Homo sapiens: one gene and its partners. The protein of the gene in region 2 interacts with the protein of the main gene of each other region in a pairwise test. Each region holds a gene or a part of one and is shown on either strand. Other genes may lie near its edges. The genes, in order: TNNI1, SPANXN2 and BIVM.

Region 1 (3,653 bases), on a different chromosome or scaffold from region 2:
CCCAAGATCACTGCCTCCCGCAAACTCTTGCTGAAGGTGAGGCTGGGGGCTGGCTGTGGGGGGATGCCCAGTGGGAGGCAGAGGGGCAGCAGAGCAGACTCTGAAGGGATGTGGAGGATTATGGCAAGGAGAAAGGAAGGAGGCCAGAGTGAGGATGATGAGGGGCAGGAGTCCAGCATTGCTGGAGCCAGTGCCAGGCTCAGGTGATCAGTAGGTGGGATCCTCGAGTATGGATTCTGGCATCCGCCTGTGGTCCCTAGAGTAGGTGGTGACCAGCTTCAGAGTGGGAAGCTACTCATGCAGGCAGAGGGACTTCCTTTATTTTCATATGTGTTTCTCTCTTTGGAGTTTTGTGGGTCAAAACAGACAGTAAGTGGATAAGAGGAAGACTGTCCGGGGAAAACAAGTTCCAGGGCTTGAGGAACATTGTGTGCAGCCACTGGGTGTACCCTCATGGTGGCCTGTCCATGGCTGCTGCATACACTTCTACACTGGACAGTGGTCTCAGAGTTGGCCCAGGCTGTGGCTGCCCTCCCCTCATTCCCTGATGCCGGGTGGGAGATGTGAGGCCCCCAGCTCAGCAGGTGTGTCCTGTCCAGAGCCTGATGCTGGCCAAGGCCAAGGAATGCTGGGAGCAGGAGCACGAGGAGCGCGAGGCTGAGAAGGTGCGCTACCTGGCAGAGCGCATCCCCACGCTGCAGACCCGTGGCCTGTCCCTCAGTGCCCTGCAGGTTAGCCTGGCAGGTGGGGCGGGGCAGGGTGGGGCTGGAGGTGCTGTGTGGGTGGCTCCAAGGACCAGGCGGCAGGAGCCTGAACTAACACCAGCTCAAGGCTCCATAATTTACAGGGCACTCCTCCCTTACATGGTCTCATTTAATCTTCACAACCACCTGTGAGGTGGGAACATTAGATTCCATTTTACGGGCACTGAACTGAGCATCAGAGGGGAGGCGTGACTTGCCTGGGCTGGGCGGCCCAGCTTCACAATCAGCCAGTGTGGTGGCATGGAGTGGGGAGGCGGCCGGGGTTGGGAGAAGCCCCACTTTTCCAAGGACTTGTCTACCCTTTCCTAGAATTTGGTCTTCAATGTTTTCAGAACACTGGTAAATTGGTTAAATGCCAGTGATTATAGAGAAAAGAGACTGGAAGGAAGTATATCAAAATGTTACTAAGTATCCCTGGGTGGTGGCATCACTAGGTATTTTAATTTTTATTATTTTTGTTTAATACATAGTTTTCAAAATGTCTAAAATTAACGCATTACTTTTATCATAAGAAAACTATTTTATTTTGCTGGGCACAGTGGCTCATGCCTGTAATCCCAGCATTTTGAAAGGCGGAGGCAGGAGGATTACTTGAACCCAGGAGTTCGAGACCAGCCTGGGCAACATAGTGTGAGACCTTTTCTTTATACAAAGTTTAAAAAAATGAGATGGGAGGGTCACTTGAGCCCAGGAGGTTGAGGCTGCAATGAGCCATGATGAAAGAATACTTTTTTTTTTTTGAGGCAGAGTCTCATTCTGTTGCCCAGGCTGGAGTGCAGTGGCGTGATCTTGGCTCACTGCAACCTCTGTGTCCCAGATTCAAGTGATTCTCCTGTCTCAATCTACTAAGTAGCTAGGACTACAGGTGCACACCACCATGCCTGGCTAATTTTTGTATTTTTAGTAGAGACAGGGTTTCACCACATTGGTCAGGCTGGTCTTGAACTCCTGACCTCAGGTGATCCCCCACCTTGGCCTCCCAAAGTGCTGGGATTACAGGGATGAGCCACCGTGCCCAGCCAAGGATACTAGTTTTTTGTTTGTTTGTTTGTTTTTTTGAGACGGAGTCTCGCTCTGTCACCAGGCTGGAGTGCAGTGGTGTGATCTCAGCTCACTGCAACCTCCGCCTCCTGGGTTCAAGCGAAGGAATACTATTTTTTAAGAAATCATGACATTCAGACAGGAGAACAGAGGGCATACCCTTTGAGCTATTGCCCGTCATGAGCCTCAGAGTGGAGGAGACTGTCAGCTCCTCTCTGGATCCCAGGTCTTGCAAAGGGGCTGGGGAGAGGGTCAAGGGCTGGAAACTGATGTCTCTGTTCCCCTCTTCTTCACACCTGCATGATCCATCTGCGGCCCCCAGGACCTGTGCCGGGAGCTGCACGCCAAGGTGGAGGTGGTGGATGAGGAGCGATACGACATTGAGGCCAAATGCCTCCACAACACCAGGGAGGTGAGTCTAAGGAAGGGAAGGGGCATGGCCATAATGGGTTGGGCAGGGGCATGGGCACGGATGCAGCAGCCATGGGAGGTCCCCTCCTTCCACAGGGCCTAGGAAGGGGCCACTTAAGCAGGAAACTTTGGTTTGTCTGCCCTAGCCCCATAGGGCTGGAGATGGGTAGAGTGGATAATCACACATGAAAAGTACAAACTTCCTCCCTACCTGCCATGTGGGCTCATCAGCCTAACAGAAGCTGCTCTCTTTATCCACCCACACAAATAATCATATGCCTGTTAATAACGTCTTACCTTTGTGAAGTGCTTTCATGTTCGTTATAGCCTTTGATCCTCCTTATAGGCCTGTGGATGAAGTAGGGGCTATTATCTGCACCTTGCAGAGGAGAACACTCAGGATCAGAGAGGCCAAAGACTTGTCCTAGGTTGCACAGTGGTGGTCCTGGGACCAGTGCTGGTCTCTGGCTTCCACTCCGGTGCTCTGTGCTCCCTTAGCATGGGGTGTGGGAGGATTAGCTCCACCCAGACCCTGCTCCAGTGGGGAGGGGCAGAGCAGAGAAGGACAGGGCTCCTTTGGGGCATTTGTCCAGGCAGTGAGGAGGGGGCAGGGAGGGAGCACAAGCCACTTCTCTCCTTCCCACTTCTGCCCACCAGGAATTATATGTGGGGTCACCAAGCTCCTAAGAACTCCCCCTAGAGATCACACCCTGGGAATTCCTCCAGGGGTCTAGGACCTGTAAGTTTATCACCCTGCTGGACCAAGGCTGTGAGCTGCTTTGAAGGCTCACTGGGGAGGAATAAGTTAGAAGCAGGGATGAGGCTGCAGGAACAAGAGGAAGCAGCCCTGCACTCCAAATAGGGCTTCCAAATCAGACAAGTCTCAGTCTGGTGGAGCCGCCCCTTTTATTCAAGGCTATAGTGTTAGCAACGGCTAATAGGCTTTATCTGTCCACTTAACCATCCGTTTATCAGCAAATGTGCAGTGGTTATTTGCAAAGGGATGGGTGGGTCTGACTGTCCTAGAGCAGGGATCTCCAACTCTTGGGCTGTGGACCAGTACCTGTCCGTGGCCTGTTAGGAACTGGGCCACACTGCAGCAGGTGAGCAGTGGGCAAATGAGCATTCCCGCCTGAGCTCTGCCTCCTGTCAGATCAGCGGCGGCATTAGATTCTCACAGGAGTGTGAACCCTATTGTGAACTGTGCATGTGAGGGATCTAGGTTGCACGCTCCTTATGAGAATCAAACTCATGCCTGATGGTCTGAGGTGGAACAGTTTCATCCTGAAACCACCCCACCACCTCTCCGTGGAAAAAGTGTCTTCCACAAAACCGGTCCCTGGTGACAAAAAGGTTGGTGACTGCTGATAGGTCTGGCTTCAAGGGTGGACAATTTAAGGTGTATCTCTGGCTGGAACCCTAGCAGTCTGAGGTCCT
Region 2 (3,302 bases):
ACTACAACTTCCGCCTCCTGTGTTCAAGTGATTCTCCTGCCTCAGCCTCGCATGTAGCTGGGATTACAGGCACCTGCCACCACTCCCAGCTAATTTTTGTATTTTTTTTTTTTAGTAGAGACTGGGGTTTGCCATGTTGGACAGGCTGGTCTCGAACTCCTGACCTCAGGAGATCGTCTGCTTCGGCCTCCCAAAGTGCTGGGATTATAGGCATGAGCCACCGTGCCCGGCCAATACAGATCTTTTTAAATGCCCTTCTACATATTCACATGCTCCAAACACCAAGTCCTTTTCTTCCTCTCCTGTTAGATAAAATTTTAAGAAGAAAATTTGTCTCTAGGAATAAGTCCTCCCCCAGGCCTTATTTACAATGTCTGGGAAACTGTCAACCTGTGGGTCTGTCCGCCAACCCTACAGGATCTCATATCCTTCCCTTCTCAAATGCCTACCTCTTCCCTTCCCTTCCTTCCCACCATCAGACAACAGGCAGAGATATACACGGTCATCAGCTCCTCAAACTTGATTTTATTGTAATCATCGCCATTGGTAGTGAGGATTTGTCCAATTTGGTTTCTCCATGTTTGACTAGTCCTCCCCACCCTCCTGTGAAGATCCTTCAGATGAGTCTAGGTCTTCGTCCTCCTGTGAAGATCCTTCAGGTGGGTCCAGGTCTTCGTCCTCCTGTGAAGATCCTTCAGATGAGTCCAGGTCTTCGTCCTCCTGTGAAGATCCTTCAGATGAGTCCAGGTCTTCGTCCTCCTGTGAAGATCCTTCAGATGAGTCCAGGTCTTCGTCCTCCTGTGAAGATCCTTCAGATGAGTCCAGGTCTTCGTCCTCCTGTGAAGATCCTTCAGCTGAGTCTAGGCCTTCGTCCTCCTCCTCTTGGACTGGATTGATGGAGTTCTCTCGGGACTGGTCCTTCTCCAGTTGATTTGAATTTATTTTCGTATGCTTCCTGTAGTAATACACTATTATTGTTAGATATTCTATTGTTTTTGTCTTTTGCAAGCTCTGTTTGGGGGCTAAGACCCTGTTCGGTGCCTCCTGCATCTGATAAGAAAACAGGGAGAGGCCAGAAAGTCATTATTTTGGGTGAATAGGGTAGAGACTGGATAGCAAGGGGGGCTTTATGAGAAGGAATGCAGGTTGAGGAAGGGGTTTGTGCCAGAGAAGAACAAGGTGGAATCATAGGGTAGTGATCTATGGGGAAGAAGAAGAGGAGCATGGGTAGGGTCATCTGTTAGTCCAAACTGCACGATTTCGCAAGTTCTTTGCTATTTTGCAGACCTTGGTCAAAGTGAGACACTCCATGGGGGCTCAGGCCGTGAGAAACATCCTGCCTAACCACCTGACCACAGGGCGGACAAAGGCCCAACTAAAGAAACATTCCTATCATATCTTGCTTGGCAAAGTTCTAAGGAACGCCACAATGATATTCCACTGGAAAAAGGGCCAAACCACCTGATCATAAGAACATCTTATCAATATCCTGCCGGATAGCATCCCACATTGCCCAGATCCCTCCTGCCCATCCCTGTAAGTACCCCAGCCTGTAAGCGGCGGTGGGCTCTGGCATTAAGCTTGTCCTCCACTTCCATAGGTGTCTGCCATATTCCTGTGTTGCTGTTTGAGCTGCCCCCTGTGTGTCTTTCTTTCATCCTTGCCTTCCCTTCAAAACCTAACATTTTGGTGCCAAAACCTGGAGTGGTGATTGGGTTCTAATGGGTAAGTTTTCTCTTGCAACCTGGAAAGCAGCAAGCAGCACAAACTAGACCAGGGCCTGCTTCCAGATCCTGAGTGTACTCCCTGTTCCCAGTCCCATTCTCCTTATTCTCTAGTCTTCTCCAGACCTGGGCTAACCTCCAGATAGTGATCAAACAAGCCACCTTATTTTTTGTTCCTTCCTGTTTCCGGGCAGCTGCAACAAGGATCACCCCCATTTCTGGACATCACATCCAACACTGGGCTTCAATTAGTGGGTGAGTCTCCCTCTTCCTCCTTTCCAGATTCCTCTCTATTTCTGCCCGTTCTCCAAAAAATTCCAGTGCTGGGTGAGAGGTCTCCCCAGTCACCAGGTGACTGCAGCCTCCCTTCTTAGGGTACACCTTCAAAACGTTTGCCACTCTGGCTGCTCTGGCCTCTGGGGAGCATGAATAGTACGGGGCTGCCCCAACTCTCCAGGTCCCTTCTCCCAGGAGGAATCAAGTACTCACTTCCCTATGGGGTATTCACTTCTCTCTGGAGTACTCGCTCACCCCTGGGGTACTCACTCCCTTCCAGGGTACTCACTTTCCTCAGGGGTAGTCACTCCCATCCAGAGTATTCACTCCCCTCTTCCAAAAAACAAAACATTCAACTTCCAAATTCAACATAATCTAAAAAACTTTCTTCAATGCAATGGTAAATAATCTGAAGTGCTTTGCTTATCTCCTTTCATGCCTCACTCTCTCTCTCTCTCTCTCTCTCTCTCTCTCTCTCTGCCAATCTTGTTCACCTTTTCAAATCTTCCTCCTCAAGGAGAAACCCCCCAAAATGCCTCTTCCTCCGGACAAGTCTTCTTCCTCTGAATTTCAACCTGGCCAACACACCCGTTCTTCAGCCTCCTGCCCTCTCCCATTCCCTCCACCTTCTCCTTCGGATCCGGCTCCTCCACCCCCTTACTGTCGCCCTCCATCCCCCTTCCTTCTCCACCTCAAACCAGGTCTCACACCCAACCCCCTTTCGCTAGGAACCAGGCACATGCCCAAAGGCCTTCCAAAGTCCTTCCCTTGCAGGAGGTTGCGAGGGCTAAAGGCATAATCTGAATTCAAGTTCCCTTCTCTCTAGCTGAGTTTTCCCATATTGAAAGGAGACTTGACTCCTTTTCAATGGATCCAACCTCCTTCCACAAGGAATTCTTGTACTTCCCTAAATCTTATGACCTTACCTGGCATGACATATATGTCATCCTCTCCTCTACCCTCACCCTGGAGGACAGGGAACACATCTTTATGGGTGCCCAGGTCCATGAGAACACCCTCCACCAACAAGATGCTGCTCATAATCCAATAGGGACCCTAGCTGTCCCCAGAACTGGCCCCAGTTGGAATTATCAGGCAACTTCAGTAGACAGACAGAAATCAGGCCATATGATATCATGCCTTCTAGCTGGCATAAATAAAGCTGTCCCTGCTCGTTTCCTCTCCTGCCTTTCAAAAGTCACAACTAAATATGCCACCTTAAGCCCTAATACCAATAAGGGCAAAAACTACCTCCATTTATACTTTATCTCCCAGTCAGACCCAGACATTTGAAAAAAACTT
Region 3 (3,653 bases), on a different chromosome or scaffold from region 2:
ACTTCTGTGTCCAGTTTTAGCATGAATCCTGCTAAGTCAGTTTAGAGAGAACCCACAACCCTTAATATCTAATCAAGTTCCTTACGGACGTCCCCTGCCAACTCCTGATGTCTCAGCCCTTGACCTGCCTTTAGCAAGAAGTCTGTTAGGCTTTAGCAAGAATCCCCATACCCTTGACCCTCTTAGTAATATCCCACCCCCAAACCCCTCGCTGTGTCCCTTGGCTATAAAGTCCCAGTTGTCTTTGTTGTCTTTGCTGTATTCAGAGCTGAGCCTGATCTCTCATTCCTACTACAATAGGCCTTTCACAAGTTTAAAATAAAGTCTTCTCACCCTATTAACAAGTGTCAGAATAATTTTTTCTTTAACAATGTATTACAATTTTCTGATTTACACAGTCAAAAGATTGTAACAATTTTAAAAATGGAAATTGCTAAATAGTACAAATTATTTAATTAGCACATAACTAAAATAATCCTTGAGATCAACTCCATTAATATTTCTGTTATAAACAAGACTATTTTATAGCAGAACTTTGTCACTTCAACAGTCTATTTTCCTGCCATTATATGTCACCACACAGGTCTAACATCAAATATTCTCAAATCCTTACATTCCTTCTTAGGAAGAAAACTGCTAACTCCATGCTGCTTCCTTAGAGTTTTACTAGCATGTGCGCGTACACACGCACATACATACACACACAAACACACACACACACCACGGACCCAAACAATACAATGTGTTAGAGTAGTGTTTGTGATATACCTTAAAGTTCTAAAGGTTCTACATAAAAAGGTTAGAAGAGGTAAAATATTAAACTGCTTATTAAAAAGTGCCCTACAGATTACATGCAAGTAACAGACTGTGCTGAGGGTTTACATAATGTCCCAGGAAGCTAAACAGGCAGTCTTTGAGACGAACTCTAAACCGTGTGTGTGTATGTGTGTGTGTGCATGTGTGTATGTGTGTATGTAAATCTTCTATATGTTTACCTACCAGTTTCTCCTGCTGTTTTATTCTTCCCATGAGGCTTATATAGAACATAAGAGCATCCTTTTACATGGAAGTGGTCATTAATTTGTCTAAACCACCTGAAAGTAACAAGAAGATTTGTTCATGGCAACAATTCTACAACAAAGATGGCATTATTCCAATTCTAAAGAAATTCAGGCATAGCCCAAAGTTGGTATACCTATGAGAGGTTGAAGCCCAGCAGCTGGATACATGGTTTACTATCAACACACATCTACATCATTATTATTTTGCAAAACTAGAAACACGATATTGCCTCTAAGAGGGTCTTCATACCTCATAAGTGTTGTATTCCCCGTGAAAGGACCAAACCTAATATCTTCAAATGGAGGTTGAAAGCCCAGAATATGTAAAGCTTCTTCTTGGGTAATAGGTGGAAGGCTACAAAAGAAACATTCATTGCCTTTCATTTTTCAATTCCAGTCATACGCAAATACAGCCTGTCTCAATGTTAATATGCTTGTCTGATTTGCAAATAATATTAGTAATATTTTTCATTATTTTATTTTATTTATTTTTTTAGAGACAGGTTCTCACTCTGTGGCCCAGGCTGGAGTGCAGTGGCGTGATCATAGCTCACTGCAGCCTTAAACTCCTGGGCTCAAGTGATCCTCTTGCCTCAGTCTCCTAAGAGACTAGAAATACAAGTACATGCCATTGTGCCTGGCTAGTTGTTTTTATTTTTTTACTTTGTAGAGGTGGGGTCTTGCTTTGTTGCCCAGGCTGGTCTCAAACTCCTTGGCTTCAAGCAATACTCCCGCCTTGGCCTTCCAAAGTGCTGACATTACAAGTGTGGGCCACTGTACCCAGCCCATTTTTATTTCACTGAAAATAATACATGTATATATTTTAAGCTAAAAGACTTACACTAAAATACAGCAGGGTTTTGTTAAATTTATAAAAAATCTATTCTTAAATTTTTTTCTGTTATAGAAAAAGCAACATCAAATTACTTTGGAGTTTGGGGGTACTGATAAATTGACATACTTACTTTCCAGCTCCCATTGTGCTGTATAAGAAATTCCAACAAGAAATTAATGAAGAGATGCCACAAGAAGTCTTATACTGTGGTCGGCTTATGCAGTACCTGAGAACACAAAAGACTGTTTTCTTCACTTGAATGAACACAAAATATGCATGCTAGAAATAGAAAACTCATGGCAATTAAAGGTGTTAATATAATGAAAACTTTGATCCCCTAAGTCAATGTAAAATCTTCCATATTCACTTATTAATCATGTCATAAATATAAAATAACAATAAATCACCTGCTTTAACAAAAATAGCTAAGTATGACTAACTGCCAGTTAAAGTGGATGTTATCCAAACCAATGGGAAAAAAAATAATGATATATCGCCTATTAAAAGTTTGGTGTAAACTCCTGGTTGAACTGCTTACATGATTATTTGCAACTTCAGAAATACAAGAGAAACAAACCATTGCCCCCACGTGTCAACTTCTCAGAGAGATTCTTCAACCCAAACAAAAATTCATCCATTTATTACCCACTGTGTCCATCTAAAATCCTTGGGCAAGAAGCCATGAAGCAGTGCTTCTCCTGTCACAGAGAAGTTTAAAAGTGAAATACAAAATCCTTCCATGGCATGATTCAGTGGCACTAAGCAATCCAGACAATTTTCCAAACTGTCATGATTCAAGAGAAGAAACTGGGGCAAATGTGAACAGAAGGAGAAAGAGACAGACTATTTATTTATTCTGTTTTAAGAAGAAATACGTTTGCTTTCTCTTTTTTTTTTTTTTTTTTTTTTTTGAGACAGAGTCTCACTCTGTCGCCCAGGCTGGAGTGCTGTGGTGCAATCTTGGCTCACTGCAACCTCCACCTCCCGTGTTCAAGCAATTCTCCTGCCTCAGCCTCCCGAGTAGCTGGGACGACAGGCGTGCGCCACCACAACCAGCTAATTTTTGTATTTTTAGTAGAGACAGGGTTTCACTATGTTGGCCAGGATGGTCTCAATCTCTTGACCTTGTGATCTTCCACCTCAGCCTCCCAAAGTGCTGGATTACAGACGTGAGCCACTGCACCTGGCCAAATGTGAAGCTAGTCAAGCGTGGTTGTGGGGGGAGATAATGTTAAATCAGCTTAACAATAACCCACAACACTCGTTGGCCTTCAAATGATCTTCTCCTAACTGCTTTCTAAAGAAGGTGCTAAGAAGTAGCCACAATGAAACAAAGAAACAAGCCCTATCATCACTAAGAGCAACTTTAGTGTGGTCTAAAAATTAATTACAAAATGAAAAATTAGACATATGCATGTGTACATATATGCATTTGTATATGTATATATACTATGCATATTGGCACACATACAAGTTAACCATGACCCTTCAATATTTTTTTTTAAGTTCCAGGGTATACATGCAGGATGTGCAGCTTTATTACATAGATAAATGTGTGTCATGGTGGTTTGCTGCATCTATCAACCCATTACCTAGGTATTACACTCTGTGTGCATTAGCTATTTTTCCTGATACTCTCCTGTCCCCGGTTCCCACCCCGCGACAGGGCCCAGTGTGTGTTGTTCCCTCCCTACGTCCATGTGTTCACATTGTTCGGCTCTCACTTATCAGTGAGAACGTGTGCCACGAGCCCTAAA

The links.
Region 1: the proteins of SPANXN2 (region 2) and TNNI1 interact in binary tests that used the Homo sapiens proteins (3 or more experiments, as listed by UniProt).
Region 3: the proteins of SPANXN2 (region 2) and BIVM interact in binary tests that used the Homo sapiens proteins (3 or more experiments, as listed by UniProt).

The regions. Positions count from the first base shown.
Region 1 is NC_000001.11:201,411,596-201,415,248, reverse strand, and holds part of TNNI1 (troponin I, slow skeletal muscle), read left to right. Parts: coding exon 1-36; intron 37-599; coding exon 600-731; intron 732-2,127; coding exon 2,128-2,217; intron 2,218-3,653. UniProt on the Homo sapiens protein: Troponin I is the inhibitory subunit of troponin, the thin filament regulatory complex which confers calcium-sensitivity to striated muscle actomyosin ATPase activity.
Region 2 is NC_000023.11:143,711,450-143,714,751, forward strand, and holds the end of SPANXN2 (sperm protein associated with the nucleus on the X chromosome N2), read right to left. Parts: intron 1,051-3,302; coding exon 586-1,050; 3' UTR 506-585; downstream 1-505.
Region 3 is NC_000013.11:102,819,506-102,823,158, reverse strand, and holds part of BIVM (basic immunoglobulin-like variable motif-containing protein), read right to left. Parts: intron 2,123-3,653; coding exon 2,027-2,122; intron 1,417-2,026; coding exon 1,312-1,416; intron 1,095-1,311; coding exon 1,000-1,094; intron 1-999. Other genes in the region: BIVM-ERCC5 protein, read right to left, coding at 1,000-1,094, 1,312-1,416, 2,027-2,122.